2 linked regions of the Homo sapiens genome follow. The protein of the gene in region 2 purifies or fractionates together with the protein of the main gene of each other region. This does not show direct contact. Each region holds a gene or a part of one and is shown on either strand. Other genes may lie near its edges.

Region 1 (3,500 bases), on a different chromosome or scaffold from region 2:
AAATGCAGGTGTTACTTCCATTTGAAGCACTATTAAAAAAACTGGATAAAGATCAGCAGCAGCTACAGATTGTTGCAAGTTCTTGGGATATCCTTCTAGCTTAGGAATATGGCTCCATGGCAGAATTTATGATCAGAGACTCATCATGTCTTCAAAAATTTAAACAGAATTATGTATAATTGCTAGCATGCATCTCCATAGAAGCTATGTTATAGTGAGTGATTTAATTAGCATTACAATTTTCAGGAATTAATTACCTAATGTTTTCCCCTCCCAACCCCTATAACCTGAAAAAAAAAAAACCCAACCTATAAATGGATTGTGTATTTTAAAGGTAATCATTAGAAATTTTATTTCATAATACATTTGCTTTTAATGATTGTTGCACTTTTAGTCTATTAGTTGAACATTAAGTTTTCTTTTTACCCAATGACTAAAAATACACTGAAAGTTGAAAACTTAAATGACATTTTCAGAACAATCTATTTTGTTGCTTTTGTGTGTTTTTTTAGTTTGGCAGTCAGCTTTGAATTTTAAAATTTCTTTGAAATTTTATGGGTTATTGATTATTAGAGTCAGTAATTTAAAATCTGAATGTAAATTAACTTGGCCACATGCAAATTAATTGTATAATTCATTTAAGTAGTCATTTATGATTAGTTGGCTTTAACTTTTTATTCAACAGCCAGCATCCTTGTTTCAAGCCATGGAGTTACATTCCTGATGGAATCATGCCAATTTTCTGGAGGGTAGTGTATTGGACGTCACAATTTTTAACATGGTAAGTTACAGTAAATGATAAAATTTTTAAAATTTTGGCTAAAGGAATAAAATGTTTTTCAATCAATATAGTTTGGAATTTATTTATGTGTCATATGCATTCTGAATCTTTCTACCCATTATTTTTATCTTTCTGCTGTGCTCCAAACTCATAGTTATCCACTGTCTACTAAGCATCTCTTAGATCTGCAAACAACTGCACTCTAAAACTGGAGGCACTGAACATTGCAAGAGAAAAATTACATAGCAGAGTAGTGCTTTTGTAAAGTCATGTCTATTAAATTCAACTGGGCTCTCAACATTGCCAGACTTTCCTTCTTTGTTTTTTTTAGTTTGCTTTCTTTCCATTTTCTACAAGAAATATTTCCATTCACTTCAAACTTCCGTCCTCTTTATGGCTTTCTCTCTTGTGCTCCCTAACAACAACAACAAAATCATCTTTACTCTTAGCCTCTTAGCAGATGACTACTTTCCATCCAGCAGTTAAAACAGGAGTCATCAGACGGCAGCTCTTTCAGCTTCTCACCAACAAATCTACATACCTACCCATCTTTTTTTCTTTCCCCTCCAAAGATGGAAGAGTCATGCTTGTTAAAGCCAATACTTCTGTCACAGGATCCTTAGGGGTGTTGTTTTGCCAGCTGGAAACCTCTATGGCCAGTAGCACCTTTGCCTGAATTTTACTCAGGCCCGCTGGGCTTATTCCGCTTACTCAGCCTGGCAGGTTGCACTTAGCTCATGCTCCTGGCTCTGATCTCATGACTCCCAAGGGCGAGCCAGGCATGGAGTGGTGAGGGGTGTGTGAGTGAGTGAGCATGGGATCCAGCCACTGAGCACAGCCAGACACGCTGGCTGCTGTGGCAGGGTGGGCAGCTCCAGGCATCGGCACAGGTGTCGGCTCTGTGAAAGCCTGTGGCTGGGTCAGATGCACTGCAAGCAGCTTCTGCTGTGGGCACCTGCATCTGGATGAGAGGAATGTGGTGGTACCCAGAAGCTTGGAGATGCCAGAAACCTCAGAGCTCCAAAGAGGGTGTCACAGCCCTAGCTTGGGGAGCCCCTAGATCTGGGCTCCTGGAAGGGCCACAGCTCTTCTCTTCTCGTCACCTGCAACATGGCAAGTGGCAGGGCCATGTTTCAGCCCTGTTTGTGTTTCAGCTCCTTCAGTTCTGCCATTCAGCAGGTCCTGAGTTCTTGTCCTACATCCAGGAAGAATGAGGTATGCAGACAACTGGAGGGTGAGCAAGGTGAAGAGGTGCTTTATTGAGTGATAGTACAACTCTCAGGAGACCCAAAGTGGATAGCTCCTTTCTGCAGGCAGGTTGTCCTGACAAGTATAGCTCTCAGTGGAGAGGAGCCCCAGAGTGGGTAGCTCCTATCTGCAGGCAGGTTATCCCAATCGTCTGTGCAGCCCCCAGTAGAGAGGAGACCTGAAGTAGATAGCTCCTATCTGTAGTCAGGTTGTCCTGTCATCTACCTAAGTGGGGCTGAGTCTGGGGTTTTTATGGGCTTCAGAGAGGAGAAAGTGTGCACTGATTGGGCCATAGGCAGACCTGGATAAAGCACCCTAAGTTCTCACTCTGGTCCACAGAGCTGATGGCCTGGCCTCCATGCTTCAGGCTGTCCCTGGCTTGAAGGTGGGGCTTCACCGGGGACCTGCCCACTTCTGCCCAGGAGCCTATCTGCCTCCTGCCACCATCAATCATGTCATTTATGGCACCCAGGCTGTTCATGCCAACCAGTGCCTGCAGGCCCATGCTGAGCTGCCCTCAGCCCCACTGTCAGCCTCCCTTCTGTGCTTGTTGATGTCCAAAGTCCAGAGTGGGCTGAGGCAGCCGGGGGCTGGTGTCAGTGCTGCCCTGAGCATGTGTGCACACCCAGCTAGGTTACAACAGTGCCTGGATTCAGTCACAACTTTTCTCCAAAATCAGAGCAGGTGTCAGGAGCAGGTACTTCCAAGCCTGTAGGGGTATGGGGGCTTTCTGGGTCCCCGAAAGTGCAGGGATGCCTGGGTCCACAGCCACAGCTGGGCAGCTGCAGCTATGCCCAGAGCAGGGCTCCTGCCCCGCCAACTCGGAAGGGGGTGGGGCTCCCACCTCTTCCCAGCTCCTGCTAGCTCCATGGAGTGCACAGTCCCCGCCAGTCCCCCCACACTGCGGCCAGCAACTTTGCTGGGGGCCACTCCAGACAAGCTGCTGCTGCCATCACTTCTTCCTAAAATATGGATCCATCCCCTTCAGCTCTTGTTACATACTTGTAGCTTTCAATTTCAACGAAGCATGCACATTTCTCTCATCTTTTGAAAAGAAAACAAACAAAAATGAAAGTCTCTCAATTCAGATTCCTTTCCAGCTTCTGCCTTGTTGATCTGATCACAACTAAATTTTTTTAGAAACTTTTTAAAATTGAAGCATAAGTTCGTACCGAAAAATGCATAGATTGTGTTTAGTTTGACTTTTTTCAAAGTGAATACACCCATACACCAGCACTCAGATGATGTTATAGAACATTAGCAATGCCCCCAGAAGCCTCGCTCACGCTTCCCTGTGTAGTCATCCCGCACTCCCCAGAAGTAACCATGATTCTGACTTCCGTCACCATAGATTAGTTTTTGCCTGTTTATGAACTTTATAAGCATAGAATTATACATTGTGAACTTTTTTGCATCTCTCTTTGCTCACATATTTGGGAAATTCATCTATGCTGTGCTGTATGTATCAGTA
Region 2 (4,250 bases):
AATCATCTTTGTAAAGTTCTTGAGAAATGTTTGGATGAAATACTGAACTACAAACATAAAAGTCAAGATGTCAAAATATAATGTCAATTTTAATATTACTTTATACTTTGAATTGCTAGTGATCTAATGATTGATATAGGAATATGTTTGAAAGCCAAAAACATTATATAGATACTTTGTGGCAGATATGTCAGAATGTGATTATACTTAAAACAGCATTCTATAAATTTGAAGAATGTGAATTAATGATAGAGATTTCAGATTTCAGATTATTATTTGATATTGAATATAGATTTTTATGGAAGTCAAAATATGGAGTAAAAATATTATATAAGGAGAAATGAAGATAATCTCACAGAGTTAAAGCATGTGATTTTTGTATTTTAATTCTAACTGACCATGTGACATTTGGGAAGGTCATTTAATTTATTTGAGCCTCAGTTTTGGGGTATGTAAAACCACAGTAACTCATATCTTTCCTTGCCTACCCTCTAAGATTGGGGAGAATCAAATTAGATAATGCAGGTGAAATACTTTGCAATTTTCCCTTTAATATGACATTGTTTTATAACATTATATTACTGATGCAACATTTATTTGCATTATGAAATATCTTCTAAGGAATAAAATATTTGGACATCACTACAATTGATGAGGACTGCATGTGTATTTTTGAAAGCTGTATTCTGATTTACAGAGCAAAAATAAAAAATAAGCAAGCTACCAAATATGTAAATACAGGAATTAGCCCAGTAGTATTTGTTCTTCTGTTCCACTACAGGCTTTAGAGTAATATCAGTGTGTGTTTTTCTTACATAACTATGTGACATTACTTAGGGCATAATTCTAAAATTTCTGTCCTAGGAGACACTAGATAACTCTCAAAAACTTCTGATTTGCTTGCATCCCTTTTTGGCAGAGTGGTCACAGTATAATGCGGGAGGGTAGGTGACCCCAGAGTTCAGAGTCCTCATGCACCCGGGAGCAAAATTCACAGGAAAATAAGCCCACATGGAGCTACTGCATTGTCTGATGGCCTCGTTCGAGGAGGCGTCAATTTAACTTTAAACCCATGAGCTCATTGAGAGCAGGGGAGAGAAGGGGATGTCTCCAAATTCAGGAAACTGTTGCCATAGCATTTTCCCTTCTCTATTCCTGCATAGCCCTCCTCCCCCGAATCAGCAACAATTTTTGCTCCACCGTTTTCTTTCGGGAACCAGATGCGTTTTCAGAAGACAGTACTCCAGTGATAAGGTATCTACACCACTTAATAACTGTACCTGGTAAGGAGATTTAATAAGGCTGAGGGTGGTATTAAGTTTCTCAGAACAGACTCATCTTTGCGGATGCAGTTGCAGAACAGGAAACAGACCCAGGGAGAAGTTTAGTCCCCCCAGATCTCATTGGCCCTCCGCACAAGCCAAGCCACAGCCACTCCTGCCACACAATCGGATTGCTTTCAGCACTCGCAGCCGTGGACCGCCGTGCGGTCCTTTCCTCCGCAGTGAGCCGATTTGCTCTGCCAGCAGCTGTCGGTGCCGCGCTCGACACCGAGTCCTAGCTAGGCGCTCACAGAATACGCGCTCCCTCCCTCCCCCTTCTCTGTCCCCCGCCTCTCGCTCACCCCGGCCCACTCCAGCGGCGACTTTGAGGGATTCCCTCTCTGGCGGCCTCTGCAGCAGCACAGCCGGCCTCATTCGGGGCACTGCGAGTATGGATCTCCAAGGAAGAGGGGTCCCCAGCATCGACAGACTTCGAGTTCTCCTGATGTTGTTCCGTGAGTAGCGATTTGGCGACTGGGAGAGAGGACGGGCACTCTTTGCAGAGAACAGAGCCGGCAAAGTAAAGTCAATTAGCTTGAGATAAAAAATATGGCCCTTAATGTTTTGCGGTGTTTTTTCTTTTTTTCTTTTAGGGGAGGAGGGAGGGCCTTCCTCGCCGGTGGCAGGGAATTCCCCTGAGAGCCATACACCTCTGTGGCATATTCCAGACAGAGCCTAGACAGGCCAGCTTCGTGAGGTCAGAGCATTGGCAAGAAATATTTACTTTAAAATCCCAAGATGTAGAAAACAGCCAGCTATATTACAAACAAAGTCAGGATTTTTAATTTTTTTAACTGTATTTTCATTATAAATTAACAGCGAAGGAATGAGGCTTGTTAGACCCGGGTTAGAGAAACGGCTCGTAGAGCGCACAGCTGCTGGCAGAGAACTTTGTCACTCCAAAGCCTGCAGAGCACTGTCTCCCCACCCTAGCGCCCGAGACGCGTGGGCTGAGCCCTGAACTGATGGAATTGTTTTGTTTGTTCCGCAGATACAATGGCTCAAATCATGGCAGAACAAGAAGTGGAAAATCTCTCAGGCCTTTCCACTAACCCTGAAAAAGATATATTTGTGGTGCGGGAAAATGGGACGACGTGTCTCATGGCAGAGTTTGCAGCCAAATTTATTGTACCTTATGATGTGTGGGCCAGCAACTACGTAGATGTAAGGAATCTTTCCCCCCCCTCAGCTTGCTCCTAGGGCTCCAGGGCGAAGGGCACCCTTCCTCAAGGCTCTTCGAAGACCTGGGTTGCCCGCCTTCTTTCCCACACCCCGGCAGGCTGCTCCCGAATGCTGCATGGGGATTCCAGCTTGTAATGCCTTCTGTTCCCCTGCCTGCTTTGAAAGTAAACCCCCTTCTCTCCGCTTCCCTATCGGGGCTGCACGTAGAGCATCTAACCGCATGTTCCCGGAACCTGGGATGCGCGCGCGCAAAGGAGCGCCCAAGCGTGCAACCCAGAGTTTGGACGCGCCGCCCTTTACAGCCCCCGCCCCGGGGCCGGGCGAGCTGAGGGGGCGCGGGGCGTCTGTGTTCCCAGCTGATCACAGAACAGGCCGATATCGCATTGACCCGGGGAGCTGAGGTGAAGGGCCGCTGTGGCCACAGCCAGTCGGAGCTGCAAGTGTTCTGGGTGGATCGCGCATATGCACTCAAAATGCTCTTTGTAAAGGTAACTCCGAGCCCAGCGGGCAGAGGGGCCGCAGGCTCCGCGTGGGTGTGGGAAGTGGCGGCCCCTAGGTTTAAGAACCCAGACGCTGCGGGGACGATTGAAGCGCACCTCCCCGGCTCAACAGGAAAGCCACAACATGTCCAAGGGACCTGAGGCGACTTGGAGGCTGAGCAAAGTGCAGTTTGTCTACGACTCCTCGGAGAAAACCCACTTCAAAGACGCAGTCAGTGGTGAGTGGAGGCTGGCATGGCTGGGGAGGGAGCCTGGGAACTCGCAGAACAGGCTTGGAGAGAGAATTCCTCAAGGTTTTGGAAACCGTCCCACGCTTTGAGGTCCCAGGCCAAGTCTTCCCTCGGCTTGCTCTTTAGGGCGGAAGAGGCGGGAGCGCCCATGAGTCTTCTGGGTCTCAGGCCTTGTAGATCCGCCAGGAACCGCAGGCGTGGGGACCCAAACGTCACCCGTGGCCTGATCCTAGATAAGAAGTCCCTTGAAGGCCTGTCGTTCCCTGGTGCTTCAAAACGACCTCTTATGATTTGGCCTTTGAAGGACCACGGAGAAGGGCAAAGCTGCATTTTAATTTTCTTCCGCATCCTGGTTTTGTTTCTTATGCGCTAAAACTGCAAGGGGGCAGTGCGACTTTCCTTTTCAGTCAGGATGTGATGGCCTTCAGTGTCTTTTTGCGCATGGCAGCATGGCTCGCACGGGATATTCAGTCATCGACTGCAGCTACCTGACAGTGGATTCTGCACCATGTATAATTTACTAGCGTTTCTGGCCCATCCCTCCGACAACTCAGCCAGATCCTCCTCGGCAAAACGAGCGTTCATCCCCCAAATAACAATATTCCTATCTGCAGACACCGTCAAAGACCACATTTAAATTTATTTTATTCTTTATAAGTTGTCTATTTCACTCATAATGAGGCCCTTCATCACCCAGGCACCTGAGTTGGGAAAGGATTTTTATTGAATACATAAAAATACATGTGTCATCTTTCCCTTTTCACCCCTTTTTGTTATCACAGTAAAAGGAGGATTTTTTCTTTTTCATCAAAGTTTAGATGCAAGATGTCCCCCAGTTAAATTAGACCAAAAAGGAAAAAGGAAAAATCAAACTTAGGTCAGAAAAAGAGCAATGGGAGGCAGACCTTCAGAGGGGATGTATGTGTGTAAGGACAAGCATCCAGAGGACCAGCAATCTGTCCGGCTTTGTTGAGGAAGATGTTTTATTCTTTGCCAGGCCCGTGTGAAATGTGGAA

The links.
Region 1: the proteins of LAMP5 (region 2) and LMBRD2 purify together in Homo sapiens (affinity purification with mass spectrometry; one large-scale study listed by BioGRID and IntAct). This does not show direct contact.

What each region holds. Positions count from the first base shown.
Region 1 is NC_000005.10:36,138,388-36,141,887, reverse strand, and holds part of LMBRD2 (G-protein coupled receptor-associated protein LMBRD2), read left to right. Parts: intron 1-685; coding exon 686-781; intron 782-3,500. UniProt on the Homo sapiens protein: Recruited to ligand-activated beta-2 adrenergic receptor/ADRB2, it negatively regulates the adrenergic receptor signaling pathway. May also regulate other G-protein coupled receptors including type-1 angiotensin II receptor/AGTR1.
Region 2 is NC_000020.11:9,513,140-9,517,389, forward strand, and holds the start of LAMP5 (lysosome-associated membrane glycoprotein 5 isoform 1 precursor), read left to right. Parts: upstream 1-1,450; 5' UTR 1,451-1,713; coding exon 1,714-1,777; exon of another isoform or gene 1,778-1,859; intron 1,860-2,313; coding exon 2,314-2,486; intron 2,487-2,860; coding exon 2,861-2,992; intron 2,993-3,116; coding exon 3,117-3,222; intron 3,223-4,250. UniProt on the Homo sapiens protein: Plays a role in short-term synaptic plasticity in a subset of GABAergic neurons in the brain.